Regions from separate parts of the Homo sapiens genome. Here region 2 is linked to region 1. Evidence: fine-mapped expression QTL. A gene starts in region 1. The other region holds a variant in brackets. All regions are shown on one strand. Distances are between the middles of the regions.

Region 1 (15,121 bases):
TAAAGAATCCCTGCCAGAGTCACTTCATGGTAAAAATGACCTACAGAACAAAATATAAAGTATTTATCCTTGAAATATGCATTTAAGTAAATCAGCTTAGTATTTTCCTAAGTTAAAACTTCTCCCAACATGTACCCCTCTGAGTTCCACCACAGAATTTCTCTAAACGAATCCCTCACCTTTCACTTTTCCTTTCCTAAGCATATGGCCCCCAGTCTGCTCAGAGAATCATTTTCCCCACACTTTCTCATACATTTTTCTTTAAAAGTCCCACATATCTCCAGCTGCCCTATTCTATCTTTTAAAAATATTAATCCTACCCAACTAATATCTAATAATATCCTACAGAACAAAGCAACTATGAAAAAGTTCCATTAATATGCTATACAATAAACCAAGATTTATAAAAAATTGCTCTATTGCCTATTCTAATAAATATTCTAAGTAGATTTATCAAATGAAATTGAAAATCACTTTTTATAAAAGATTTCTTCCAAAAACATAAGAATTATGAACTGGGTCTATAAAAAGGTGATAAGCTAAGCTCCTTCAATTAAATCTTTACTTAGTGCTACTAAGTAGGTAACAAAGTGCTGGGCTGTGTGAAGGATACAAAGTATCGGAAAATCTCGGTGATTTATAAACAACTTTACCAGTACTGGGGTAGAAGAAAGGGGAATGGAGAAGATGGAAAGGGGTAACTAAATACCACTCAAAAGGTATCTCTTTTTGGGGGAGGAAGCCTGCTGTTTCAGTTTGTTTATGACTTTAGCCAAAAACAAAGCAATGCAAGTTAGTGTTCAAATAAGTTGTGCATTAACTTTTTACCCTTTCACAAACATCTGTATCAATTAAGGCATATTTCCAGCCTTTTCTATTTACCTTAATGCTCTTCAGAAATTTCAACCACATCAGATTTTGATTTGTGTTTCCACCAACAATGTGAAAGCCCCTGTTAACTAATAGCCTCTTCAAAAGTATTATCAAACATTTTCCATCTGTCAGTAGGTGAAACAGTATCTCATAGTTTTTATTTATAATATTTGTATTATGTGTGAGGTTGAATACCTTTACAGATGCTTACAAAACACTTGCATTTCCTTTTCTGAGAATTACTCTGTTCATGATCTTTGCCCACTTGATGGTTGGTCTTTTCCTAATTGGTTAGTAGGTACTTTATATAAAGGAAGTTAGACTCTTATTTATCATACAAATTGCAAATATTTCTACCAGTTCCTCCATTATCATGCTATTTTTATTTTACTTCCTTTTTGTATATATTTTATCTTCCTCAATCAAACTGCAAATCATGCCCATGAAAGATATCACATTTCTTTTCTATATCTCCAGGAAGAGTGCTTTTCAGATACTTCAGATTTCAAGATCAAATTTAAAAAGAGGAGAGACGAGTGTTTTGCAGCAGATGAATAAGTATGAACATTAATTATCACAGGGGCACCTACTTGGATTGTCTGTTTAATCCCATTACATGTGGTTACAGCAAGTACAACCAAGTTCTAATAATGAGATATAGTTTATTGAACAGGGAAGAACTAGATGAACCTTTCTCCAGTTTCCCAGGCTGGTATCATGAAAACTCAGAAGCTACTGGTGGCCATATTTTCCACTAAGAGGACTAGAAGTGGTCCTCTGCAGCAAGAGAAGGAATGAAGCAAACGCACAGAGAAGAAGAGAGAAACGATATGATGTGCCCTGCAGGCACTGGAGTCCCAGTCCTTGCATTCCACTGGACATTGGCTGCATTTGAACGATAAATTCCCTTTATAACAACTAGAATGGATTTCTATTACTTATGGCCAAAAGAGGCCTGTTTACCATACTACTATCATTTTATAAAGGAGCATTTGAACACCGAAACCTCAGAAAGAACATGACCTCAGATTTTTTAAAAGGATGATTTATTTAATGACAGCTATGTGCCAGGAACAGGTCTAAGTCCTTGAAATATAGTGTTAATCAAAAGAGACAAGATCAGCAGGGTGTGGTGGTTCATGCTTATGATCCCAGTGCTTTGAGGCACTGAGGCGAGAGAATCCCTTGAGATCAGGAGTTTGAGAGCAGCCTGGGCAACACACACAGCAAGACTCCATTTCTACAGAATTTTTTTTTTTTAATTAGCTCGGCATGGTAGTTGTTGCCTATAGTCCTAGCTACCAGGAGGCTGAGGTGGGAGGATCACTTGAGCCTAGGAGTTCCAGGCTGCAGTGAGCCGTGATCACACACACCACTGCACTCCAGCCTGGGGTGACCGAGTGAGATTCTATCTCAAAAACAAAAACAAAAAGAGACAAGATCATTGATATCACGGGGCTTATATTCTAGTGAGTATGGAGATTATAAAATAATATAAAAACATAATTTCAGATACTGATAAATGGTTTGAAGAAATTTTTAAGTAAAAAAGGTAATGGGATTGAGGGGGATGAGGCTAGTGTCATTCTGGAAGGATGGTTAGGTAGCAATGCTTGTCTGAAAAGATGATATTTGAACTACAACATGAAATGATGAAAAGTAGTCACTCATGTAATGATTTAGGAAGAGTTCCCAACAGAGTGAACATAGTGCAAAAGCCCTAAGTTAGGAGCAAGCCATGGCATTGATGAGGAACAAAATGAAGGGCAATGTAGATGAAATATAGCAAAAAGTGGAGGAAGAGGGTAAAGAAATGATAGATTTAAGAGGAAAAGATGTAAATTGGTGAAGGAGGGATTAAATCATGTACAAAACTAGCAAGCAGTAGAAAGGATCTGAAAATAACTTGAGCTTTATGAAATATTCATTATATTGTCTTTAATTCTCATTTTGCCTTGTATCAGTGATAACTCTGACAGATAGGCTTTTAGAAACTTCCATTCCCAAGTACTTAACACAATCCTAAAGTTAGCCAGAGATGAATATATTCCTAAGCAGAAAGTATCTCTTCTAGTACACTATATTAAAAAAAAAAAAAAAGGAAAAAAGGAAAAAAGAATTTTCGGATGAAAGCAAAGTCATCTTAAAGGAAAGAAGGAAAATAACCTAGGATGAAGGAAAAATAGAAACTAATTTTGTTCTGTTCATTACTCTGTGAATATACTTACTATGATAAAGATTATAGAAAGGTCTTTGAATTAGTCTATCATAATTAAGGAAGGTCATAAAACTTAAGTTCTTTCTAAACTACTATAAACGTAGCAGCCTCTGTTTACTGAGTTCATTATTATTGAATTGGACATTAACAAGGTTAAATACTGTCAGAAAAGAAAAAGTAGAAACCAGGCTTTTGACTTTATTACACCTGGTAATAATGGTCACAGCTTAATGGTTAACAAAGTTGTGGGCTTTAATCTTATCTATATGACTATGATAAAGGAAGAACTTCCCCTCTGCGGTGAAATGAACACTAAAATTAGCTACATGGGATGCTTCAATATCTTCTCCTCCAAAAGCTTTTTATAAGAGGAGACCAATTTGTTTAAAGGGTTTGGATATAGATACACTTCACAGAAGAGTGATGATCTTTCCAGATCCTTCCAGACAACTAATATCTGTGTACTCTAAGCAAGCAATTAAACCTACACTGCTTCTAAGATTAATGCAAGTAAAGTCGGATCTTTGAAAGCTATAATGTATTCAGGAATCTTATCTTTCATTATGTTAGAGGCATACTTAGACCACTTAACAGTAGACTGTTAATAACACAGTCTATAAAGAATGATACTTTGTAAGCATGCTGTGAGTTAAAGAAAGAAAAGTCATTAAACACCTTGATTGAGACTTGCTTCAGAGTGCATCCTCCTCAGCACACTACCCAGCAGTTTGACAAAGTGCCCAGGATTAGCAGCCAATGTATGTAAAGAAGGAATATGGTCAAGCCCAATTGTAAAGTCTCCCCCCAGTGGTCAGATACAAGTAACAGAAAAGGAGGAAAATCATTGCAGCTTCTGTGAGACTGAACAGGAAGACTAAACAAAACTGGTCCCTACAACAAAAAAATAAAATCTTTAATTCAATACTAGCACCATATCAGGAAAGAGATCTCTTGTGCTTATCTGCTCTTATATTTATAAATGTGAAGACTACTTTTCTAAAGAACCTACAGTTAAAACAAAACTAGCATAATTTTTCTCCGCCTAAGTTTTAAGGAATAACTGACATATTCCCAAACAGTTCAGTATTTATCAAATGGGTAAGTGTTCATTCTTCCTGAAATAAACATCAGCACATCACTTACATGGTTAACTATACTTACCTGAAGTAGAGTTCTGATTTAAAAAAAAAAAATCTAGTCACTCATCAAGTGAATCACTCTGGAAGGAAAAATTATTAACTATTATATACCTAATGTGAATTTTACAAGATACTCTTTTTCAAAAGTCACCTAGCAATAGGTAATTTATATTAGAGTGATGTCAAAAGTATAAATGCGTCCTCTTACCTCTTTTAATTTTATTTTCTGGCTGTTTTTTTACAATTAGCCTTTGACTAGCACTAATCCTGTATTATTTGTAACTCTCTCAGCAATAATATGATGCTACTCCATTTTTACAAAGCTCAGATGTCAAAAATATGAAAGACATTTAATTAAAATATCTGTTTTATTCTGCTAATCCATTATTAAGTAGTAAAGCATGTAAAGGGATAGTAAATATTCAAACAAGCAACTTCAATTTTAAAACAACTTTTTAAAAAGATAACACATAGAGTCACAGTTATGTCTTCTTGGTTATCTCAAGCTAAAAAGAGGGGGAGTGGGGAGAGAAAGAGAGAAGCAGGCTATGTAGTGCTCTGGAACAATTTCAGCCTAAAATGAGACTCAGAAGCAAACTGCTCCCTCAAATGTTTAAAAATATGATTCATTTTTAAAAATCCAACAGTTGGCCTAAAGAAAAAAAAAGATTCTGTCTTATATAGAGCTACTAGACTTGCTTAAACACCTTAATTTTTCCAGTGTTGATTTAACCTAGAATGCAAAATAATTCATTTTGACATTCCAGATGTCAAGAATTCGGTGGCATCAGTAAGGACACATACACACCTCTTTCATAAAGATGGTGTGCAGTCTCCATAGGACAAAATTGAGCAATTAAAAGTGTTACCATTTGTGTATTATGTAACCGTAGTCCAGAATGAAGGAAACATGGACCTTAAAGAGTAACACATCGTGCAAACACGCATTTAAACACCTATTTAAATATATGATAGATTTAAGGTACAAATGACCTCAAAATGACACAACCCACAAAAGTTCTTTGTTTACTGTTAACAAGGCCTCAGAAGACATAACTATAATCAGGCCTACTACCCACTACCCTATCATTGCACAGTAGATGCCTACAATAAGCAATATTACTTGAGGTCCGTTGCTATACCTATATACGGAAACTATATACCGCATTACTAAAAATGTTACTTCGCCTGGTATATTCGACCAACATAAGTTTACAAATGATTTGCAAAATTTCACGGGAAGAAATGGCTGCTAAATCATACTCCAATTGAAACGCATTTTAACGCACCCCAAACGTTCTCAGCTACACTACAAGACCACTTGTAATATACTTGAAGCACAAAGTAAAATTCCAACACTCTCCAAAGGCGTAGGAAAGAATAAAACGTGGCTAGCCTGACCTTACCCGGCTGTTTATAAGTAATGCGGAGAATTTTCTGAGCTTCCCCGGCAGTCTTCAATTCTCTCCCTCGCTTCACCCCCACCCCCTACACAGATGCACACCCAACTGATGGAAGTTTAACAAATGTAATCTCGAGCTGCAATCCCAGAAACTGGTAGGATTGAGAATAAACTCCCAGTAAAGTGTTAAAAAGTCCTTCTGCAAAAAAACATCTACCAACCAATCCACATCCTGTCACCACACGGTCGGATACCTCAATCGACTCCCCTGCTGACCCTCCACCCAGCCAAAATAAAAAAGCCCCAGCACCTATTTGGTTTCAGACAAACGTACCGAGAATCCGCGAGCACGATCTCAGCAGCGAACGCCCCCGCGGCAGCCTGTGCTCGGCCCACAGCCACTTTGGCCAAACAACTGGAGTCTCGTACCTCGGAAGTAGCGGCGGTAGTTGGAGAAAGCCTCCTCCCCTACCAACTCCGAGCTCGGGAGAGAACCGGGAGCCGGCGGAATCACCCCCTCTCGGGACAGACCCCGGAGGTGTCAGTCACAGCAACGCCGCCCCCAGGCCGGCTCTCCATTCAGGCTCCACCGCGACTCCCGCCGCAGAGGTGTAGGCACCCAAGCCCCGCGCCCGAAGGGGCCCCGCGCGTCTGCGGCCCTAGCCCCAGTCGGGGCCGCGCCGGGGAGCGCGTGGGGAGCGGCGGCAAGCAGCATGGGCCAGACACGTTGCCGAGCTCCGGCCCGCCCAGCCGCCCGCAGCCAGAGAGGCAGGAGCCCGGCCGAGCGCCCCTTCCGCGCGGGCCGGGCTGGGGGCGGCCAGCAGCCTCCCCGACCGCGGCGCCGCCGCCGCCGCCTGCCGGTCCCTCTTCCCCGCGCCCGCCGAAGCCCAGGTGCCGAGGGGGGCGGGGCGGGCCAGGGTCCCCGCGTGGCGCGCCGCGCCGAGCAACAGGGCGCCCCCGGCCGGCCCGGCGCGCGGCGCGACCGTTACCCGAGCGGCGTGGGGGTCCAGTTAACTCACCGGCTCGCACCTCAGCCGCCTCCGCGCCGCCGCTGCCGCCGCTCCCGGTCGCTCCCCGCCGCCGCTGCTCTCCCTCAGCCACAGGCGCCGCCGAGCAGCCCCATCTGCAAACTCGTGGCTCGTAGTTGAGAACTGGAAATGCGTCTCTCACTGCCCTCCGCCTCCCTCTCTCTCCTCCCCCTCCCTCGCTCCCCACTCTGCCCCAGCTCCGGTCGCCCCCGCCGCTGCCTCCGCGCGCGCAGCCAGCCGCGCCTCAGCCGCCCTCCTCCTCCTCCTCCTCCTCCTCCTCCTCCTCCAGCCGCCGCCGCCGCCGCCGCTTGGGCGCGCTCCCAGCCGGCCTCGCGCGTGCGCCGGACGTCGGGGAGCGCGCGCTCGGGCGCGAGGAGGTGCCACCGCCTCCGGAAAGCCGGGCCCCGCCCCTCCCGCCGCGGCTGGGCGCCCAGGTGGAGCCCCCTCCCAGCTTCTGAGCGCCCAGACTGACTGCGCTCTGCGCCCGGCCGGCTCGCTTCAGGGGTCCCGGACCTGCGCCCGCGAGAGAGGGCTGGTCGGACCCAGTCCCCGCCGGGTCTCCTGGGCCGAAGTCGCAGCTGTCTGTCAGCATTTACGGGTGGGCAAGATACTCCTCGGGGCATAAAACAGGCTCCGCCCTGACCTTTCTGAGAGTTTTACATTCAAGAACCCAGTCGTGGGGCACAAAAGAGAAATGGAACGAGAAGAAAAGCCTCTGGAAAAATCTCCCCCTCCCCCTTCACAGACTCCACTGGATCTGATGTGTATTTGGCAGGTTCTACGGCGCTGACTGTGTCCTTCATTAATTTTTTCCCAAAGGCCCGACCGGGCAGTGTGATTCACACCCGAGGAAATGCATGGACACTGGCTCTTTTCATAGCACCGAGGCTCCCGTGGAACTCCCTGGGTCGGCTTTGCCAGACACTCCCTGGACACAGTTGTTCAGCTCCTCCCCAGCACCTGGGCTTCCCAGACCTCAAAAGGGTGGGGTTGGGGAGGGCATGCCATCCTTTCAGCCTGGACTCTGCGTAGAGCTTGGTGAACTGTGATGAGTGTCCGGATGTGTAGATGACACATTTTGACAGAAGTGCAGATTTAATTTTTCAGTTGAAAGGAACTGAGCAATGCACTGCAGCAGAGACTTCTGGCTAGAAAAACATAGCAAGGCAGCCAGAGAACTTCCGATCCCCTTAAAAGAGCTCTGTGAACCCTCAGACCTGTGACAGGCGGCTTTTGGAAAAACTATTGTGTTCTTCCTAAAATTGAAGAATGTAATTTACATTTTACAAAATGCTTACTGCAATCTTTTCAAACCATGAACGTAGAAAGTGCAAGTCAAACTTTACGTGTGAGGAGTGTTATGAGGTGGCCTCCTCTGTGCAGCCTTTCCTGGCTTCTCTTGGGCACCTTGCACAAACCAGACCATTAATAAGTGTTTGCAGAATAAATGCGTGCATCATGGCCCTTTGGATTCAGAGATGAAGTTATAAGTTGTATTGTCTCCTCTCTTTGTGAATGTGGCAGGCATGGAAGGGAGAGAGAAAATACTATTGATGAGATGTATTAAGAAGGTCCAGTGTCCAAAACAGTGATTTTTGTGTTTATCCTCAACCAAGCATCAAAGATTAATTTACTTTTCCATTAGGATCATTAATTTTGCAAACCAACATGCAGGGGGGCCTTGTACAGTGTTAATTTAGAACCTTCTTTCCTGGAACCACAAACCCAGGCAAAGGTAATTGGAAGCATTTAAGGAGACTCAAACGTGCCCAGGGCACAGAGTAGCTTTGGGCCCCCTGTAGTCAGGATGGCTGGATGAAATGAAGTGGAGTGGGCTCGGAGCCCAAGGCAGAGACAAAGCGGAAGGATGGGGTTTGTCTTCTCGGGGTGTCAGCAAGACCTTTCAGGTCCTTCTTGCTGCCCCAGGCCCACTTGCTTCTCACAGGACACCCATGGGTCCTCCCTGCTGTACCCTACCCAGGCTTGTGAACTCTTTTCCCTTCTGACTCTTAACCTTAACACATCCCCTTGGACCCAGCCACTTAGTTACTTGCCCTGAGCTTCTCTGGGGTTGGGGTGGGAGGTAGGGTATGAATGTCATTTCCAGATATGTTAGTGATCCTTAATAGTGCACTTTTATTTCCTCAAGGGTCTTCTGGAAACAATGTCCTAACCTACTCTACCCCTGCTCCCTGCAAGTAGAATGATGTTAACTGAGGAAGTTTTAGGGAGGGAGGGTTTGGGGTAGGCTCTGCCCCTCAAATTACATGCAGACCTACCTGACTTAAAGCTGGCACCACTCCTGGCCAACTGCTTTATCTCTGCATCTACCAGAGACCCAGCATTTGGGAGCAGGAATACAGGAACAATTATCTTTCATTTGCAGTTCCAAGTCTGTGCTCTAAGTAATGACAGCAGCTATCAGATGGAGGCTTATCACTGCCGTAAGACTCAGCTTCATTCTTAGAGTCAGAAAAATGATTTTGCTCCAATAACTGTCTTTGATTGCTCCCCTTCAGAAAGCTCTTGCCGGTGAAGTTCCTCTCTCAGTGTCAGATGAGTATTGTATCAAATACTCATATACAGTTATAAAAGGAAACACTATTTCCTTTTATAAATGATATTCCCATTTTATAACATTCTGCCCTTCCTCTAAACTTTAAAGGTGGGACATGCCAGGATAAATTTAAAGTGTTCTCAGTTAAACATTGGAACTCCCATCATTGGTTCCCAACTCAGCTTTCTGAGAGGTCATCATACTGAGACACCACCATCCATTTCCCATACCGGTTACAAATTCTTCATTCCAAGAAAGGGGAATGATATGATTGAGAATGATGGTGGATCTTTCTCTTCAGTGTCCTTAATAGTCTGACTTTTCATTTCCTTCAAGGTTACTCTAAAGGGATCATAATTTTACCACAGCCCAGTATCTCCCAACGGTAATTCAATTTAAAATTTGAATTTTGATTCTTAATTCAGGAGCATCCATCACTCAATTTTGTTTCCTCCTTCAAATGTAAACAACATACACTTTTAATGTGATTACATTTTCTTTTCTCTTCTGACCTGCTTTGCTCCTACAGAAATTGAGAATTTTGCTAATAGCCCCGAATTTTAGCAAAAGCAAATCCTGTGTACTTGTTTTTCAACTAATCCATCATAGTAAAAGCAGTGACACTCCTGGAGGATAGCTTTATTTAAAAATGCAACTGGCATGCATCACAAAGTCCAACCAAGTTTTCCTTCAGAATACTTTATTTAGCTTCACTCCTTTTATCTCTGCTCACAAAGCTAGGTCAGATTCCAATTTCCAGCCTCCTTGCTAACCTTTCTAATTCTAGCCTCTCTCTTGCTTCCTTGCAATTTATCCTATACTCAGAGCAGTGCTTCTTAATTTTTGGCTCTTTATTGAAATCACCCAGAGAACTTTAAGAAACAAAACAAAGCACTGATGCTTTGATGCCATCCCAGACTTAATTGCTCTGGAGCACAGCCTGGGTGCCAGGATTTTTTCAGAGCTCTCCAGATAACTCTAATACGCAGCCAGAGTTAAGAACTATGGAAATGAATCATCTTCCAAACAACATTTATACCAAATCTTCACAACAGTGGGGTAGCTCCAAATTACCTCGAGTAATCAAATTAAAATTCCTAATCCTGTGCTTTAAGACTCTTTGCCAATTGACTAGAATAGTCCCCTTTCAAAACAGCTTAAATTTATCTCCTTCCTAAAGCTTCTCCAGATTAGTCTCACCTGGCTGCCTGAAGATCACCGTTCCCAGCTCTGAGCATCCCGACTGGCACTGGTTTACAAACCGCTGGACCTCAGTTGATTGTGTACATTATTGTTTTAATCTTGCTTTCATAGATATTTGTCAGAGGCTTTTCTTATAATCTAAATCTTTCCAAAAGTCCCACTGGGTCAACTGTCTCAAACAGAAATGTCTTAGCAGAACTTTCTCCTCTAAACTAGCTGTCTGAAAAAACATTTCCTGATACGATGGCAGTTCTTTTTTTTTTTTTAATCATCACAATTAAAGCCAAACATTATAAGAACTTGAGTTTTGGGGTTGTTTGGTTTTTCCTTAAAAAAGAAAACTATATATCTCAGCATATCTCCTTGACTTTTCTTACCATTATTTGTTTATTTTAGGCATTGGAATTGGGCTTCCACACCCACTTCTCTGCTGAAACTACTATTTCCATCACAATTAACATTTTCATTCATGTGTTCATCCATTCAGTCACTCATTTACTAGTGAAGCATAATGAAAATAAAAAAATTAACAATATCAAGTAGTCCCTACCTAATGGCGAAGAATAATAAGCAAAATATTACATAATAAGTGCTATGCCAGGTGTCTTAATAGTATATGACAGAATTAGTGGGGAAGGTCTTTGCTTAGTGTTCATGCCATTGAACTTCTCTGCAGTGTTTGAGGAGGTTAATCTCTCGTACTCTCACTCTCTAAACCTCTCTTTTCCTTTAACTTCTCTGATACCATACCACCTGGGAGCTCTTTCGACCTCTCTGACTGTTCCATCTCTGACCCTTACTTTGCTGTGTTATCTCCTCCTACTTCCTAAAGAAAAATGTTCCACTAAGAATGAAATAAATTTTTGAGGAGAAACTTAAAAAGAGCAGATAGTACTGTTTATCTTGAGAATCCCAGGGATCCTTAGGACTCTAGCACCAATGCTTCCACATCTGTATCTATTCTCCCTTGAGGCATATTTTCAACTCGCTGTTGAAAATTTCCATCTAGATAAGCTATTCACGGGGTTGCTCCTGCTGGTTTTTCTGGCACCTTCCTTTCCTTTACCTCCTTTTACCATCTCCTGAACAAACACATACTCAAATCCCTTGCAGCCCACTTTCTCAAAATTATAGGAATGGATTCTCTTGTTTATTTGCTTTAGTCCTACAGAGTCTCCTAACTCATCTCCCTGCCTCAGGGCCTCCTTGCCCTGACTGCCAGGTGCCAGTCATTTTATCCCTGTCTCCTTACTGCCTACGGGACCCCATTTACAAGGTCATTCACAATGACAGTCAAAGCTTCCCTGTTTGGATATTCTAGTTAGTCATATCTTGTATCTTTATGTTTCTACCCCTGTTTTTGCCTTCTGCCATCTCTGCTGGCCAAAATCCAAGCATGTGTGCTCATCTCACACCCTCCTTTTCCATGAAACCCTTTCTGCCTCACCTCAAACAGAGGTACAGTAGTCCCCCAGTCCCCCCTTATTCATGGTTTCACTTTCCAAGGTTTCAGTTTTCCTCAGTACAGTATGATAAGATATTTTGAGAAAGAGAGACACTATGTTCACGTAACTTTTATGAAGGTATATTGTTATAATTGTTCTATTTTATTATTAGTTATTGTTAATCTCTTAACGTGCCTAATGTATAAATTAAAAACTTTATCATAGGTATGTATGTCTACAAACCATAGTACATATATATATATATATATATATATATATAAAATATGTACAGTGCAGTACTATCCATGGTTTCAGGTATTCACTGGGGGGCTTGGAATGGATGCCCTCTTGGATAAGAAGGGACTAGTGTAATTGCTCTCCTTTGAACTCCTGTAGCACTTTAATTGCATCTTATGGCTCCTTTCCTATTCTGCTTCATAAAAGCATCATTTATGTTTTCAAATATTTATCTTTGCATTCTTTTTACCGCCACTCAGCCCCATCCCCTTCTTTCTTGCAGGTAAAATCCAGGGTGATGTGTACAGGAATGCCTGTAGCACTTGGCATAGTACTGCACATAGTAGCTGCTCATTTATTGAAACAGATAAACCTGTTAGTTGGTAGACTTCTAAAATTAAATAAAATTAAGTGAAAAATGTTGCTAATTACAATTGAACACTTGTTCCAGAATATGCAAGTTACAGATGAAAAGCTCTTAGAAAGACAATCAGATTTCAAGCAGTGACCTTAATTGAGCTTGACTTTATCTCACCAGGAGCCAGCATCTATATGTAATTAACCCTTTTAGATACTCATTTAAAATCGGCCTCTAAATTCTACCTCTCCCATTATATATATGAACTGAAAAAAAAATCCTTCTACTCAAGTATCAAAAAGAAGATTAAAAAGACATAGGAAAACAGGAAAAACCTTTCTTAAAAATTTGTAAAAATATATAGTGTCAGTATAGTGTGTACCTTTCCCCATTGAAAACACAGACAGGCACGAAGTCCTGGAGGGCAGTGGAGGTCTTCTGGAAGAATCTTCTGGCATGACAGGCAAAAAGGGTGTCAATGGTGATTAAACATAAAAACAAAGGGTCAAACTGTGAGGCCGATGCTCCTCCAAAGGACTGAGGAGAAGTCGTGAGGGTAAGAGCAAGTCATTAAGATGCATAGTAGGCTCTTAAGACATTTTTGGTAAATAAATGAATGAAAGATGGATAGGATAAGGGACGTGGAAGCAATGATGGAAGTCGGGGTGTATGTGTATGAGTCGGGGCAGCCATGGCAAGCTGTTTTGGCTGTTAACAATCTGGGAAGTTAATGGCCCATTTTAAAGCAATGCCATCTTCATGCTAGGAAGTACAGGGCATTTAGTTTTTCCTTAAAATATCAGCTGTTTATAAATATGAAAGACCAAGTCTTTTTAAAAAATCCTGCTTTGGTAATAATAGCGAATGACAACTATCTATTGAGCTCATGCCTGTGTGGCAGACACTGGTGTATAACCTTCATATGGAGCATCCCATGGGGATCATTACTATTACTCCCATTTTTCAGATGAGAAAACAAGTGAAGAGGAGTTAATGGCTCAGGCTTCAGAACCAGGAAGTGTTTAAAGAAGCTCTGCTGCAAAACTCCTGCTCATTCCCACACTTCATACACAGAGTGCTTTGTAACTTTCAGGTCAATTCAACTGGAATGAATTATAGTACGAGTTACTACAATTAGAGGTTCTCTGTAGCATGTTATTTAACTCAGATTCACCACCACGATCTACAGACTTACTGTATGTGTGTATTTTAACAATGTAGCATTTGTGGAAAGGCTATCTATTTTGCATTAGATTCTGGTGGGACTACTAATCACCATATCCTCCCCATATTCTTAAATTACAAGAGTGGCCATGTGACCCAGGCCTGGCCAATAAGAGTGCCCCATCCCTTCAGCCATAGGGATTAGTGCAAGAAGTAGACATGTTACCTAAATAAAGAAAATTTTGGATTTTTCTGTACTGCAGTAGGAAGAAAGATAATTTGTTTTTTTTTTCTCTTTTCAAATCAACACTTTGAGAATCTCAAAAAAGGGAAGATTTAGTCATGCCTGAGGCCAGCCTTAATTCTAGACTTTTCTGGTTACATAAATTCATGAGACCTTTTTAAATTTAAGATAATTTGAGTTGAGTTTCCATCACTTGTCACCAATAGAGTTCTGACTTATAGATGATTTATTTGGGGCAGAAGCTATACCTTTATGAAATGCTAAGTCACAGTCTAATCAATACAAGTTGACGATCCATTATCTGAAATGCTTGGGACCAAAAGTGTTTCAGATTTCAGATTTTTTGGGATTTGGGAATATTTGCAAATACGTAATGAGATATCTTGGGGATGGGACCCAAGTCTGAACATGAAATTTATTTATGTTTCACATACACCTTATACACATAGTCTGAGGTAATTTTATATGATATTTAAAATAATTTTATGCATAAAATAACATTTGTGTTAAGTACTTATATGTGGAATTTTTCACTTGTAGCATCATGTTGGCATTGAGGAAGTTTCAGATTTTCAGATTAGGGATGCTCAACCTGTATATTATTAAATGATATAGTTAGGTAAATAATTATGAAGACACTGACATATTGTAGGTACTTAATATTTATTTGATTAATTCTATTTTTAAATTAAGAGTAATAATTATAATTTCTGTCATTCAAAGTCAGTATTATAATTCTCACAAGTTGAATACCTAAGATATATTAAGTATATCATTGCAACCCTATACCAATTGACCAATGAGACAGATCCATTTGTATGTATCAGAATTAAATCATAATAGTATTTATATAGTGCAAGTAATACGGTACAAAAGAAGAGTTTAGAATCAGATAACTCTAAGTTCTACTAGATTTACCACGTATGAGCTGAGTAACCTTAGGAATGTTTTTCAGTATATAAGAATCTTTCTTTTCTCAAATGCAAAATGAGTATAATAGGCCTACCTTGCAGGGTGTTTTAAGAATTATTAATTAAACCTATCAAATGCCTGATATAGTTGCTTTTTCAGAGAAGAGTGTAATTACTATTATTATTTTCACAAAAGTGTAGTTGTAGGACAGCAAATAGTCATTTGCTAATTTACTTTGGTGCATAATTATAAGCTAAGAATGCTCTTAATTAAATTATCTTTCCTCCCAAAAAGGACAAAGTTTCCATTTTATCTACTATTGCTAAGCCTTGATCTGGAAG
Region 2 (15,121 bases), 120 kb after region 1:
ACGAATGGTTTAGTACCATCCCCTTGGTGATAAGTAAGTTCTCCCTAAGTTCATGTGAGATCTTCAAGTTTAAACTTCAAGTTTAAAAGTCTGGGACCTCTCCCCTCTCGCACCTCTCTTGCTCTGGCTCTCTCCATGTGACATGCTCATTCCTCTTCACCTTCAGCCGTGACTGTAAGCTTCCTGGGGCCCTCACCAGAGGCTGAGGAGATGTCAGTCCGTGCTTTTTATACAGCCTGCGGAACTGTGCACCAATTAAATCTCTTTTTAAATAAATTACCCAGCCTCAGATATTTCTTTATGTGACACAAAAACAGCCTAACACAATTTATAAACCAAAGCAAATTTACAAATTAAATCGTAAAACTACAAAACCAGTAATATTCAGTTGAAATAGGTTAATTTATGTTGACAAATGATGTTTTTCAGTCACCAGATTGATGTTTATGTCATTAAAAGGTGAATGCTACAGCACAAGCTTTTGGCAGATTGATATGCGAGCGCTGTGTGATGACTCAATTCTCCCACCACCCTGCTCCATTTCAACTACCATGAACCCATTGCTTAGACATTGCACAGTGGCATCTGGCCTCCATAAAGCACTAGCATATCATCACTGTGTTCTGTTCCTGCCTGTTTTCTTTTCACATCAGCCCGTAGCAACTAAAGGTATCTTCCTGATGCCAATGTGATCCTCTGTGCAGACATAAATCCAGGCACTGATATTGAGAGTCAACACCCAATATTAACTGGTTATCCAAAGAGCCCAGGTTTAAAAAAAACATTTATTTCTTTTTAGATTAATGCGAAAATGAAATGTAAAACTTAAACATTCTCGTAGGAGGTTATTCATCACACAGGAGGTATTAGAGAGCTAGGCTCTACTGGAAGGGAGGGTGGTACCCTCCAGGTAGGTCTAACCAAAAAGTTTGGCTGAAGTGGAATAGAGTCGTATTATAGATGGCCCTGAAAGCCAGGATCTAGAGTCTGAAAAATGAACTTGCAGCCATTATTGGTTCTTGAGTATGGGAGTGTGAGAGGATGAAAGCTCTATTTCAAGATTCACCTCACAGTTGTATGTAGATGATGAACAAGACAAAAGGTGAGGCTGGCGTCAAGAAGACTGGCTAACAGTCTCTATAATTTTACTAATCCTGGCACTTAAGAAAATCAGTGTTCACCAAGTTCTCACTGAGTATGTTGTACTTTACTGGGCTCTTTGAAAAATACAAAGTAGAGATTGTGAGTTGGATTTAGTTTCAAGACTTGGATTTATGGTGTTCTTCCTTCCACTCCTGCTTGTCATTGATAAATGATACAACCTTGGTCAAACCATTCATGTCGCAACACCTCTGAGACTTCATTTATCAAACAAGGGATAATGATATATACATTCCACCCTTGTTATAAATATTAAATGTTAAATACATATATATTAAATCTTCAAAAATCTTCAAGTCTTCACAGAATAGAATGAGTTTTTACCCTTTAGAGGACACTTTAGTGTTAGATTATACTTATATGAAAACATTTAAACTGTTGCAGAAAAAGAGATGATTTTAAAAATTGCACTAACTCTATTGTAACAGCATTAATAGAAATTTTGAAAATGGAAGTGAGCTCTCAGAATTCCACAGCTACCAAATATCGACTTTTTATTCTTCCTATTTCTTGCTAGTTCATATACATATAAATACATCCACAATGCATAGTATAGATGTATTGTTGGGGCCGAGCATGGTGGCTCACGCCTGTAATCACAGCACTTTGGGAGGCTGAGGTGGGTGGATCACGAGGTCAGGAGTTCGAGACCAGCCTGGCCAACATAGTAAAACTCCGTCTCTACTAAAAATACAAAAAAAAAAAAATTAGCTGGGCATGGTGGTGCGCGCCTGTAGTCCTAGCTACTCAGGAGGTTGAGGAAGGAGAATCGTTTGAACCCAGGAAGTGAAGGTTGCAGTGAGCCAAGATTACACCACTGCACTCCAGCCTGGGAAACAGAGCAAGACTCTGTCTCAAAAGAAAGAAAGAAAGATGTATTGTTATGTAGTGTTGTATTTTGCTTTTTTGGTAAACATTAGCATTTTCATGTCATTCTATAGTGTTCACAATTATTTTATAACTGTTCATCAGGTTGGTATAGTACACTTGACTTAACCAATCTCTTTATTGTTTGAAGCCCATCTATATGTGTAACACGTTTCCTTCTTTCCTTCTTTCCTTCTTTCCTTCCTTCCTTCCTTCCTTCCTTCCTTCCTTCCTTCCTTCCTTCCTTCCTTCCTCCTTCCCTTATGGAAGAGAGGAAAGAAGGCAGATTATAAAGCGCTGGGAATGGAATTATTGAGGCAAAGATAATATTTTTAAGAAATTATTTATTGAGCTCTCTTTCAAAATTGGAAGGTATTATGTATTTTAGAAAAGTCAGATTTTGGAGTATGATTGAAAACTCAGGACAGACAGAATCCAATTACTAGGTCTCTTCATTGAAATTCTTTATTTGTGACACTTGGTTTTTTTTTTTTGGTCTTAGTGGCATGGAAGAAAGCAGAAGGTTGCTTCCCAGTCAACTTTAAAGAGTCTTTTGAGGAGTATTACTTGTGTGGCAAGTGGGCTATTGTGGGAATAAGGGCTTGTTAACTGAGTTAAGCAAACGAGTGATTGAATCTGCCCTGGCAGAGTATGATTTAGAGTAAGTATAGTCTTAGCCCCGCAGTGATGTCAGATGGACATCAGTTCAAGAAAATCTTCAACCCCAGTAAAACGAGGTTAAGCTTGTGTATTAATTTGCAGATACTTCTCTGGTTTAGGAATGACCTAAGGTTTATCTGCCTGCTTACATTAATCATTTAAGGACAGCTGCTGGAAGCACAGTGGTTTAATGGGGGATGCCAATCCTTCTGGAATAAACAAGGTCACCAGGTGCCAGGGAATAAGTTCAGCTGGAGCATTATTATCCTGCTCCTCCAAACTTTTTTTTAAGTTACATTCTTGAAGATAAGGGGCTATGATCTGGGACTCACAAAGTCTGAAGGTTTGATAGTCCAAAGTCCCTGAACTTTGTCACACAGATGGCTGAACTGCCATCAGGGAATTGAAATGAGATCATGATGCAGCAAATTCTTCTCTGTGTGCCACGGTCCCAGTACTTATTGAACGGTTTTGTAAACAGTATAAATATTAACTGTCTCTTGTGTGCCAAGCCTGAGTTAGGTAATACTGCAACAGTAATGACAGCCTCTGAAAGTGAGATTTAGTCAGGTAAATGATAAAAGGATTTCAGTTTTGTTATTTGCTTTTGATGGGCACGTGGAAATGTCTGCCTCCATGAAGAAACAGACAGGCACATTAGTTCTCTAAATACATCCATTCTCAACCTTGGCTGACTTCAGAATCCCCAAAATACTGGAAGCTAGGCTCTACCCACATCAATTGAATTTGAAATTTCTGTGTGTATGTGGGGTGGGGGTGGAAGGATTTCTGGAATTTTAAATCCTGACTCAGAATTGAGGGAGGATCACTGTTCTCATGCTACTGCAAAAAGTGTCTGAGACATAGATATAAATATAATTAATTCTGATTGTTAACTATATATGCGTGTTGTTTGTTTAATGTCATTGACATTGTGATTATTCACAGAAATCCTGCCCCTTCCCTTCTTAGCACTGGTTCCTTATCTGTAGCTCCCAATGTTTATTTCTCCTAAAGTTTCCCCCAAACCACATTGCAAATCTGGACAGTCACAGCCTATAATCTCTTTTACAGCACCAGATACAGTATCATTTAGTTACCACGAAAATTCTGACTCCTCTTGGATAAGGGAAAAGGCATAATCTCTGCCAATGTTGGAGGCCAAATGTGGAGTTCTCATAGCTCAGGGAGGCTGGAGGGACTCCAGGAAAAGCGAATATGAAGACTCAGAAAATCATGGCTATTAGAGTGGAAGGGACCTTAGTGCCTAGTCATCTCATTCATGGGCAAGGGAAATGAAAATATGGAGGTCAGTACTTATTCAAAATCACACGCAGCCAGTTAGTGGGATCGTTGGGTTGGGAGCTTAGGTCTCTCAGTTCCCTGTCACCGCGTGGAGGGGAGAGGATGGCATTTTGAGGAAAAGCAGAGTGGGCATGGGGCATGTCTCCCTCTTCCACCAGAGCAGCTTTGCTGAAATCTGCTTTGCATAAGAGACTTTTAGAAAGGGTTGAAAACCACAGCATGCTAGAGCATACCAATGGTTCTGGTTTCAGTCACCATAATTTTTGCAAGTTCTGCTAATCCAACAGAGCTTGTTTACAGAACATTTAGCAGAGAAGTTTCCAGTTTTTAAAAACAGAACACACACACACACACCCCTTTAGAGACTCCACCAAACCCTATTTCTAGAGATCATTGCTCCCTTTAACTCAATCCTTTTAACTTGTGAAAGGGCCAAACATCACCGCATTGTGGACACTCTAAAATGCAAAAAGTTAACCTTTTTATGCCCCTGTGCCAGGACATTTTTCTAGGTTCACAACAAATATCCTTGGTTTTTCACTGTAGGACCTCTCCAAAATTCTTTTTTTATATTATGTATAGGTATGCGAGTTTCTAGCTCCAAGCTTTCTGAAAACAAATCAATTGTAATAGCTTTCTATGTACTTTTTCTGGGTGCAGAGATTATATCATGTAATTCTTACAATAACCTAGTTATTTAAATTAGCTCCATTTTACAGGTGAGGCTGGGAGGATTGGTCCTCTGCCTAGGTCAAATATCTCATAAGAGGGGACTTAAACCTCAGTCCCTCTAATTCCAAAGCAGTAAACTCCATCCCATAAACAATCATTATAAATACATTATTTTGGCTGGGAGCAGTGGCTCACGCCTGTAATCCCAGCACTTTGGGAGTCTGAGGTGGGCAGATCACAAGGTCAGGAGTTCAAGACCAGCCTGGACAATACGATGAAACCCTGTCTCTACTAAAAATACAAAAAATTAGCCAGGCATGGTGGTGTGCGCCTGTAGTCCCAGCTACCCAGGAGGCTGAGGCAGAAGAATCACTTGAACCTGGGAAGCGGAGGTTGCAGTGAGCCAAGATCATGCCACTGCACTCCTGCCTGGGTGACAGAGCGAGACTCCATCTCAAAACAAAAACAGAAAATTATTTTTTAAAATTTGTCTTGAGGCTTATAATCTACAATAGCTAAACAATTATGAGATATGCATATAATTGCAGTCAATAACAATCATGTTTTAGAAAAGTAATGATACAGGAAAATGCATATGATACACCTTTAAGTGAAAAAAGCAGGAAACCCCCAATTTTATAAAAGCAAAAAATATATATGCACACATGTAAAAGAGTTGAGGAAAATGCATCAAAGCATCAAGGGTGTCTACCTCTGGCCTGATGGTATCACAAATGATGCTTTTTTTCCTTTATTATAATTATTTCCCAATTTTCTACAATAATCATTCAAGGCCAGTCATGGTGGATCATGCCTGTTAACCCAGCAGTTTGGTAGGTCGAGGCAGGAGGGTCCCTTGAGGCCAGGAGTTTGAGATCAGTCTGGACAGGGTAGTGAAACCCCATCTCCACAAACAAACAAAATTAGGTGGGCATGGTGGTGCGTACCCATAGTCCTAGTTACTCAAGAGGCTGAGGTGGGAGGATCACTCGGGCCCAGGAGTTCAAGTTAACAGTGAGCTATGATTGTGCCACTGCACTCCAGCCTGGGTGACAGAGCAAGAACCTGTCTCTAAAAATAAAATAATAATTCAACAAAAATTAGCAATAATATACTTTCCACAGTTGTTTAAACTCAAAACTTCTGCAATATGAATACCCTGAAGAGCTGGAAGTACTCTCATGTCAGGATGCTATGCCACGGTCAGAGCGGGGTAACACAGTCACGGTTGAGGATGAAAAAAGAAGCAAGACATTCGGAGAACTTCCCTCCCAAACGTGGATATTAGTCAGCAGACAGGATGAAATGTGACAGCACTCAGATTTGGCTTCTCACAAATATGCCTCCCCAGCTCCTGTTCACGTTACCACTGACAGACCCTGCAATTACACGGACAACAAGTTAGACGTGTGTGTTCAATACCAAATAACTATCAAAGGTTTTTTTGCCAAGTTGTTGAAAGTAGTAACAATAGAATAGTATTGACAACACTGTTTCACAGCCAGAGTACAGTAAGTTTTCACTTAACATTGTCTATAGATTGTATGGTAAATGCACCTGAGAGCAATAACTTTAGCGTACCCTGAGGATGACCCTGTATGACAGATGCACCTGAATGTGTGTTCTGAGCTAGGGAAACTGGGAATGGCCAGCTGGAGATTTGTTCCTTGTTTATGAGGAACATCTGAGCCCCCTTCCTGTCCCATGGAACATAGGCCATATAGGGGAATCGAGCCTCCGAGTTTCGGGTTGAATGAAGGTTGCCAGAGGGAGGTTGTCAGGGGGAGGATATTAAGTGAAAATGTTCCATAAACTGCATGCCTTTTGCAAGTGGTTGCAGTTCTCCTGCTCAGCCCTTCACCACTGGACTGTATATAGGGCACGTCTGTCCATCCTGCTGCCAATGGGCTCTGTCTTCTGTATGTAAGCCTCGGTGAAACGCCATGTCTTGTTTGCTGGCTCTGGGTCTCTTCTTTGGCCTCTTGAACCTGGTGCCATCCCCATGGGAGCTGATAGGGGTTCTGCACAACATAGATTCTTACAAACTGTGACTTCAAATGAAACGGCATATAGCAAAACCAGTTTTACCATAGGTTAATTGATAAAAACGAGAATTAAAAACATCACCAAACTTCTAAAGACGCCAACACTTCTAACATAATCCATGTGAGCTATACATACATTTAAGAAAGATTAGTTTTTAAAGGTAAAAATTATTTGCCCATTTTTGTTGAATTAGTAAGTGATGGTGGTCATAGTGGTGGTGAGTTAAATCAGGAAATAAATATTTGCAAAGCAAAAATCGTAAGAGTACCTCCTGCCACCACAAAGTTCAAAAAAAATCACCAATCGGTTGTCCTTTTTGAGCACTTTTGTACACATCATTTATTGTTGGGCATCTGTATGATTGTCATCTCCTTTATTAATTTTTATTTGACCATAGTTTATATTCATTCACTCATTCCTTTTCCAACCTGCTTATTCCAGTTCAGGATTGCGGGATGCCAGAGCTTATCTGGGTAGCTGACGGTGGGAACCAATCCTGGACTAGATACCAACCCATAGCAGGGCCACTCACACGCTTACTCTCTCATGTTGGTACCATGTATACATGTCAATGAACCTAACACGCACATATAGTAGAAAACTGGAGCACCTGGAGAAAACCCACACAGACATGGGGAGAACGTGTGGGGATGCTATGTCTTTTTTATTTGCCGCGTAAATTGCCCAGGATATTGAATGTGTAACAGGTTATTTAGTGATTGGGTGCCTAATAGGCACTTTAAACTTATCCACAGATCACCTGGTATCTTCTGCTGAATCTGTCCTTCCCCCATCTTCACTAACTCAGTAGAAGGCGTTACCTTTAACCATTCGCTTAACTTCCCATCTATAAAGTGGTTCTGGCATCTTCACTTCAGTTTTAGACTATAACTAAATACAATAGGCTGAGTGGCTAAGAAACAACAAAAATTTATTTCTCACAGTTTTGGAAGCTGGAAGTCCAAGATCACCGTGTCAGTGTGGTCACTTCCAGTGAGAGTCTTCTTCTTGTATCCTTATGTGGTGGGAAGAGAACTGGGATTTCTGGGGTCCCTTTTATGAGGGCACTAATTCCATTCCTGAG[G/T]TCTCTACTCTCCTGACCTAATTACCTCTCAAAGGCTCCACCTTCTAATACCATCACATTGGGGGTTAGGATTTCAATATACAGATTTTGAGGAGATACAAACATTCAGTCCATAACAGCTTTCTTATACCTCTGACCCTTCCTCGTATCAGCTATGCTTCTCGAATTTGTTCTGAATCCACCCACTTCTTTTTGTCTGTGCTGTAACCCCATTAGTCCATGCCAAATGCATCTGGACTGATACAGTTTTCCTTCCAACAGTTCTTCTTGCATTCACTCCTGCTTCTTATAATCTGTTTTCAGGTGAATGAATGAACATATATTTAATTATATAAAATACAGGTATTCTCTTATTGATCTGTTGTGTAATAGGCAGTGTAAATGACACATATTCTTCAATGCATTTTCAAACACTACTAAATTGTTTTGGGATGAAATGTATTAATTTCTACAAGCGAGTGACTGCTTACTTTCAGCAAGTGCTCCGCCTTGATTGTGAGAGGATTCCACAAAGTGCAATGTGGTGACAGGTGCAGAGAAACTGACAGTGGGGGACAGGATGGGAGCTGGGGGCAAGCCCAGGGAGGGGACTAGGAAAAGTCCAGAACAAGGAGGACAATGACGTAGTCAGGCAGCTAATGACCACCAACGGTCAGGTGTGCTTAGTGTGCAAAGCCCAGCAAAGGTTGATGCAGGAATGGGTGGTGGTTTCAGGAACAGCTGTCCATGAATGGCAGGGTCTAGGCCATTTAGTAGGTTGTAGGTAGAACTCTGGTTCAGGGAGAACAAGACAAAGCAAGACAGATGAACCCCCAAACTTGTAGGAAGTGGAGTGAGGCACAGGTTATTAAAACGGGAACTCAGACTCAATGAGAAGGAGGTCTCTGTAACTAGAACTGATGCACAAGACGGAGCCTGGGTCTGGAGGTAAAAGTGGAAGTCCAGCCTTGTGCCCTGGGGTCCCCAGTCAAGCTGCATTGCAGACAGCATATATGACTAGAAGCAAAGGCTAGGTTAGAAGCCTTTCTGTCTTTCTGCCCGAGGTCTGCGTGAATCCTGGAGCAGTGTTCTCGAAGCTGTGACAGCAAAATGGGAACACCCGGAGAACCAGAAGAACATACCAAAGCCTGAGCCCCACACCTGGGGATTCTGATGTAAGTATCACAAACTGGGTGGCTTCCAGGATTTTAAAAGCCCCCAGGTGGGTCTAATGTACAGCCCAGGCTGAGAGCCTTGGCCCTAGAAACCGGAGCCGAACTGAAACACAGGTGGAGGGGTCAGTAGTGTCACTCGTGGTGGGGAGGGACACTGAGGGGTACCTGGAAACCAGGCAGAGTCTGATAAATCCTATTCCAAAACAAATGGCTTTCATTTTTTTTGACGTCGTTAGAAAATATATTTGTTTAATTTTACCTGGATTTTATTTCATTATTTACAAGACGATTTTTATTCTTCTTTCATTTGGTAGACTAAGAGACTCTTAAACCCAAGGTTACGGCTTGAGGACAATATATGGCACTAATTATTTTGCTGGAAGCAATATTGCTTAGTGATTTAAAAGGCAGGCCCTAGAGTCAGACAGACCTGGGTTAAGATCCCAGCTTGATCACTTGTTAAATCTGTAAATGAGAAACGAGATTAAAGGTAGCAACTGCCTATCCGATGAGGTCTTTGTAAGGATTAAATGAGCTTATATATGTAAAGTACACAGCCTGGTAACTATAATATAATATAATATAATACAATACTCATTTATCACCTCCACATAATAGTACTAATTTTCTTAGCTGAAATCTTTCTTTAAAGTTTATGATTTTCATTTTTTTTAGTCTCACACTATCATATAGGTAACTTAATATACACTTCCACAACATTTACACTCTATAGTTTTGAATTAATTAGGTGCTTTTGATTGCAAACAACAGAAACCAGTTTTGATTTCCTTAAGTGGGGTGGGGCAAATGGTTGGGGAAGATATATGGGACACAATAACTACCAAGTCATGATAAAGCCAGGAACCATTCAGAGCCGCTCCAAATGGGAAGACAAATCTAAATCAGATGCAAAGTTTTCTAGCCCTATTGTCTCTCCTCCAAATTTCACATCTTTATAATTTGTTTGAGCCATCTGCAGACCAATCTAAAGGGAAAAAGACACTGGATGACGCATTAGTTTTCTATTGCTACATGACAAATTACCACAAATTTAGCAGTGAAAAGATACGCATTTATTATCAGCTCATCCTATGGGTGGGGAATCTGGGTATGGCTTCACTGGGTTCCCCACTCAGGTCTCAGCAGGCTGACTTCTTGTCTGGAGGTGCTCAATCCATTTTCAAGCCCATTCAGAACTCTGGTTGTCAGCAGAGGTCATTCAACTCCTTGTGGTTATAGGACAGAGGTCCCATTTTCTTGCTGACTGTTAGCTGGGGGTTGCTCTGAGCTCTTTGAGACCACTCTCAGGTCCTAACCATGTGGCTCTCCCACAGCATGGCCATGTGCTTCCTCAAAGCCATCAGGAAAAAGCTCTTAATCAGGCCCTTCCTCAAAACCATCACTTAAAGCTCTCTCCAGCCTGCTGCGATGGAGTCTTCTGTAATATCATGGAATCCCAGAAGTGACTAACCCTCTTTGGGAGGCCAAGGCAGGCGGATCACTTAAGGTCAGGAGTTTGAGACCAGCCTGGCCAACATGGTGAAACCCCATCTCTACTAAAAATACAAAAAAAATGTAGCTGGGTTTGGTGGTGTGCCTGTAATCCCAGTCACTCATGAGGCTGAGGCACGAGAATCGCTTGAACCTGGGAGGTGGAGCCAGGTGGCGCCAACTGCACTCCAGCCTGGGTGACAGAGCAAGACTCCCTCTCAAAAGAAAAAAAAAAGGAGAGAAAGAAGAAAAAAGAAGTGACTAACCCGTCATATTTGCAGGTGCTGCTTACACTTGAGGAGAGGGGATTATTTGGGACATGTACACCAGAAGGTGGGGATCTTGGAGGACAGTACTGAGTTGAATAGTGTCACCCCTAAATTCATGTCCACGTGGGACGTGTGAAAGTGACTTTGTTTGGGAATAGGATTTTTGTGGATGTGATTGAGTTAAGATGAGGTCATACTGGATTGGGGGTGTCTTTACAAGAAGGGGAAATTTGGGCAGAGAGAGACGCAGGGAAGAAGGCCGTGTGAAGACGGAGGCAGAGATGGGCTGCTGCCATGAGCCATGGAACACCAAGAATGCTGGCAACCCCTGGAAACTAAAAGAAGCAAGGTGGGATTCTCCTTAGAGCATCTGGAGGGAGCACAGCCCCACTGATGTCTTGATTTCAGATTTCTAGCCTCCAGAACTGTGAGAGAAGAAATTTCTGTTGTTGAAGCCGCTCAGTTTGTGATATGTTGTTACAGCAGCCCTAGGACAGGAAAACAGGGCCCACCTAGAATTCCACCCAATCCAGGTGATTTATGAGAATGAAGCCAAGGGGCACGGAAGCAGCGATTCCTCTGAAAGGGAGGCCCAGGGCAGACAATCTCTTGGTGATCTCGACAGATCATACGGTAGATCCCTACCACTTTTCAAATTTTGGTTTGCATGATTTTAATTTTTCTTCCTCTTCCTTTTCTTCTTTTCTTTTTTTCTTGAGACAGAGTCTCGCTCTATTGCCCAGGCTAGAGTGCAGTGGCATGATCTCCGCTCACTGCAACCTCCGCCTTGTGGGTTCAAGCAATTATTAACCCTCAGTGTACCAAGTACTTGGGAATACAGGCATGCCCCACCGTGCCGGGCTAAATTTTTTTTGGTATTTTTAGTAAAGATGGGGTTTCACCATGTTGGCCAGGCTGGTCTCAAACTCCTTACCTCAGGTGATCCACCTGCCTCAGCCTCCCAAAGTGCTGGGATTACAGGTGTGAGCCACCACACCCGGCCTCTTCTTTTTTATTTCAGAAAAAAAAAATCATATTTACTTAAGAGTTGTAAGAATAGCACATTGGACTCCTGCCTACCCTTCACAAAGATTTATCAACTGTTATTATTTTGCATGGTTTTCTGTTCAGAAACCATGGAAAGGATAAAGGCATTGAGTCAGAAAGACATGAATTGAATATCCACTATCACTGGTTTTGTGATTTTAGAAATGTTATTTTCAAACACCTTGAGCTTTTGTTTAATCACGTGATGCCCTTTCACAGAGCTGGCTGAGAGCACATAAGGCAGGCCCGGAAGGCACCCAGCAGAGAGACTGGCACACGTGGGTGCCTCATACATGTGTGATTTTCAATGCTTTACACTGATTTTCCCGACTTCTTTTTTTTTTTTTTTTTTTTTAAGACAAGGCCTCACTTAGTCTCCCAGGCTGGAGTGCAGTGGTACAATCACAGCTCACTACAGCCCTGACTTCTCCCGCTCAGGTAATCCTTGCACCTCAGCCTCCTATGTGGTTCGGATCACAGGCATGCACCACTAAACCTGGCTATGTTTTGTATTTTTTGGTAGAAACGGGCTTTCTCCATGTTGCTCAGACTGGTCTCAAACTCTTGAGCTCAGGCAATCTGCTCCTCTTGGTTTCCCAAAGGGCTGGGATTACAGGCATGAGCCAGTGCACCTGGCCAGTTTTCCTGATGTTTTAAACAAAAATTTCTTTACCTACTTCATTTGATAAGGACATCTCCTCAGGATTCCTTTTTCTCTGTCTATCCCAAGTGTCTCCAGGCCTCAGTCACCCCTGGAGGATAAATGGGACAGACCAGTACACACTCAGACCGACCTTTTGCTGGCCCAGTGCCTCTGCTTGCTCTCACAGCATCTCCAGTCCACCTGACAACAACTGGGTGTTCCCAGAAGGTGTTCCTCATGTGTACTATTGCGCTGGTGACCATGTGATGCTGCTGAACCTCACTACTCTTCTTCCCATCCCCCAGGCATGGCCGTCCTCTCTGCCTGTTGCCACTATACTTGGCTGGTCACTCCACAGTGTCCCACCAGCCACAGTGAATGTGCCATTGCTTTGGATTGCTTTGCTGAACACAAGTGTCCACTCTGACAGTGGCCAAGTGCCAAGGTCACACAGCGACCTTCAGGAATGTGGGGGACCCCCTGACAATGGGGCATCTGTGCCTAATGCCCCTGACAGTTTAGAGAAGCAGCTCTTTTTGTTTCTACTCACAGCTTTCTTCTCTGCAGATGCAGACATGGGTCTGAAGGTGAGGCTGGGTAGATCTGGTATAGTTATTGTCTTGTTATTAGGAGTCCCCACCCCACTTCAGTGGCTACTTAAAGGTCAAAGTACCTAGTGTCTTCTTTCCTAGGTTGAGTTTTCTCTAAATAGGCTCTTCACACCTCTCCTTACCCCAGGATCCCATTATCCCCTTCACCTGGCCTTGAGAAGTGCCAGATGTTTCTGCATGCCAGCAATAAACAGAACTAGTGTGTTCTCCGGAGGCTCCTTAGCAGCCACATCAACAGGCCTGTGAGGCTTCCCTATCCCCCTAGATCAATGAATGTGTCTGGAAGGGTCTGGACCCTACAGAGAACAGAAGGCTCAAGCCAAGATCTTTCATATCTATATCAAAGCATCTTTGAATTCCTTCCCTTCTCTTCATTTCCCCTTTTCTCTTTTTCTTTCTTTCTATATCTTTATCAAAATTTTAATTCAAAGGGTACATCTTTTTGAGTTTTCTTTCTTTTTAACCAAAGAAGAATGTCAGAATGATCGTAAGAAAAATAAAGTCGGCAGTAACACACAAAAAATCAACTGAGCAATCTATTTAGTTTAATTTATCATCTCAGTACTGATTAAAAATATTATGGTTGAAGAGAAACAAGTAGAGAAATTTTTCTTTCACGTAGTTAAAAATTTTTAGTGGCATAGGTGTTCCATCTATCATTTGAAATGCCCACACGGGGAATATTCAAAATCTAAAACTCCAACAGCAATGTAACTTAGTACTTAAAAAGAACTGTGTGTCAGAATACAGCATTATTGCCAGAGGGATATTCCAAGCAGATAAAAGTCAGGGTAAAGATAAAACAACCATTTCAATTGAACAAACGTGGAAAGATTTTAGTTCAATAGCTGTTTGTTGAGTAGCCTTCCCTGGGTTAGCTGCTAGGTTCTAGTATTGAAGAGTCAGAAATACTTAGGCTTCTTTTTTTTTTTTTTTTTTTTTTTTAATATTTTAGGCCAGGTGCAGTGGCTCACACCTGTAATCCCAGCACTTCGGGAGGCTGAGGCGGGTGGATCACCTGAGGTCAGGAGATCGAGATCAGCCTGGCCAACATGGCAAAACCCCGTCTCTACTAAAATACAAAATTAGCTGGGCATGGTGGTGCACACCTGTAATCCCAGCTACTTGGGAGGTTGAGGCAGGAGAATCACTGGAACTCAGGAGGCAGAGGTTGCAGTGAGCCAAGATTGTGCCACTGCACTCCAGCCTGGGTGACAGAGCGAGACTCCGTCTCAAACAACAACAACCAAAAAATGAATACGGAGAGAAAAGAAAATGCAATACTTCCAATTCAGTAGTGAATTTTTTTTTGTTTTGTTTTTTTTGCTGTTTTGTTTTTGAGACAGAGTCTCACTCTGTCACCCAGGCTGGAGTGCAGTAGCACAATCTTAGCTCACTGCAACCTCCACCTCCTGGTTTCAAGCCGCTTCTCCTGCTTCAGCCTCCTGAGTAGCCAGGATTACAGGCACGTGCCACCACACCCAGCTGATTTTTTTTTTTTTTTGTATTTTTAGTAGAGACGGAGTTTTGCCATGATGGGCAGGCTGGTCTCGAACTCCTGACCTCAAGTGATCCACCTGCCTTGGCCTCCCAAAGTGCTGGGACTGCAGGTGTGAGCCACCGCACCTGGCCTAGTGAAATATTTTGTACCAATTACAGGATAATCAGAAAACAGTGTTCCTCCTCCATGAGGGACCTTGTGAATTGTTTATATGGAAGAAAGGTACTCAAGTTGGCACTGTCTTAAAATATAATTTTATTGTATGTTGTACTATTATCAATGGCCAATTGGCTATATCTGTCAACTTTAGTCCATAAATTGAATAGTAGAATCTAGTTGCTGTTAAGTGAAGAATGCTGTGCTGTCGTTCTGTAAAGTAGATTCCTTTCGCATACGGGATTTGACAGCAATAACAAGGGGCACGTGAATGCTCTTGTGAGCATGCTCAGTGGAAGGCTCATGGGAGTCTGATTAAAGCTGAGAAAAGTGGGGAAACAATGATTAACTCACACAGGCTGGGAATTAATTATCTCCAACCAACACATTCAGTATCAAAGTGAGCCGATCTCACTCACTGTCAGACACTGCAGAGTGAGAAACAGATGATGGT

Evidence for each region. PIP is the estimated chance that this variant, and not a neighbour inherited with it, causes the effect. A credible set is the group of variants that fine-mapping cannot tell apart.
Region 2: its variant is the best candidate, but not a certain one, in a credible set for the expression of PALS2 in whole blood (INTERVAL, PIP 0.62).

What each region holds. Positions count from the first base shown.
Region 1 is chr7:24,565,124-24,580,244 of GRCh38, reverse strand. It overlaps PALS2 (protein associated with LIN7 2, MAGUK p55 family member), which reads right to left and starts at 6,793. Exons shown (of 12, transcript NM_001303037.2): 1 at 6,652-6,793. RefSeq lists enhancers at 3,592-4,093, 5,925-6,044, 6,095-6,144, 6,090-6,589, 7,455-7,554 and 1 more and a silencer at 6,245-7,314.
Region 2 is chr7:24,445,098-24,460,218 of GRCh38, reverse strand. It overlaps LOC107986777 (a long non-coding RNA gene), which reads left to right and starts at 15,081. Exons shown (of 4, transcript XR_001745132.2): 1 at 15,081-15,121. RefSeq lists an enhancer at 4,012-4,061. The variant G/T (reference allele first, on the strand shown) is at 7,796.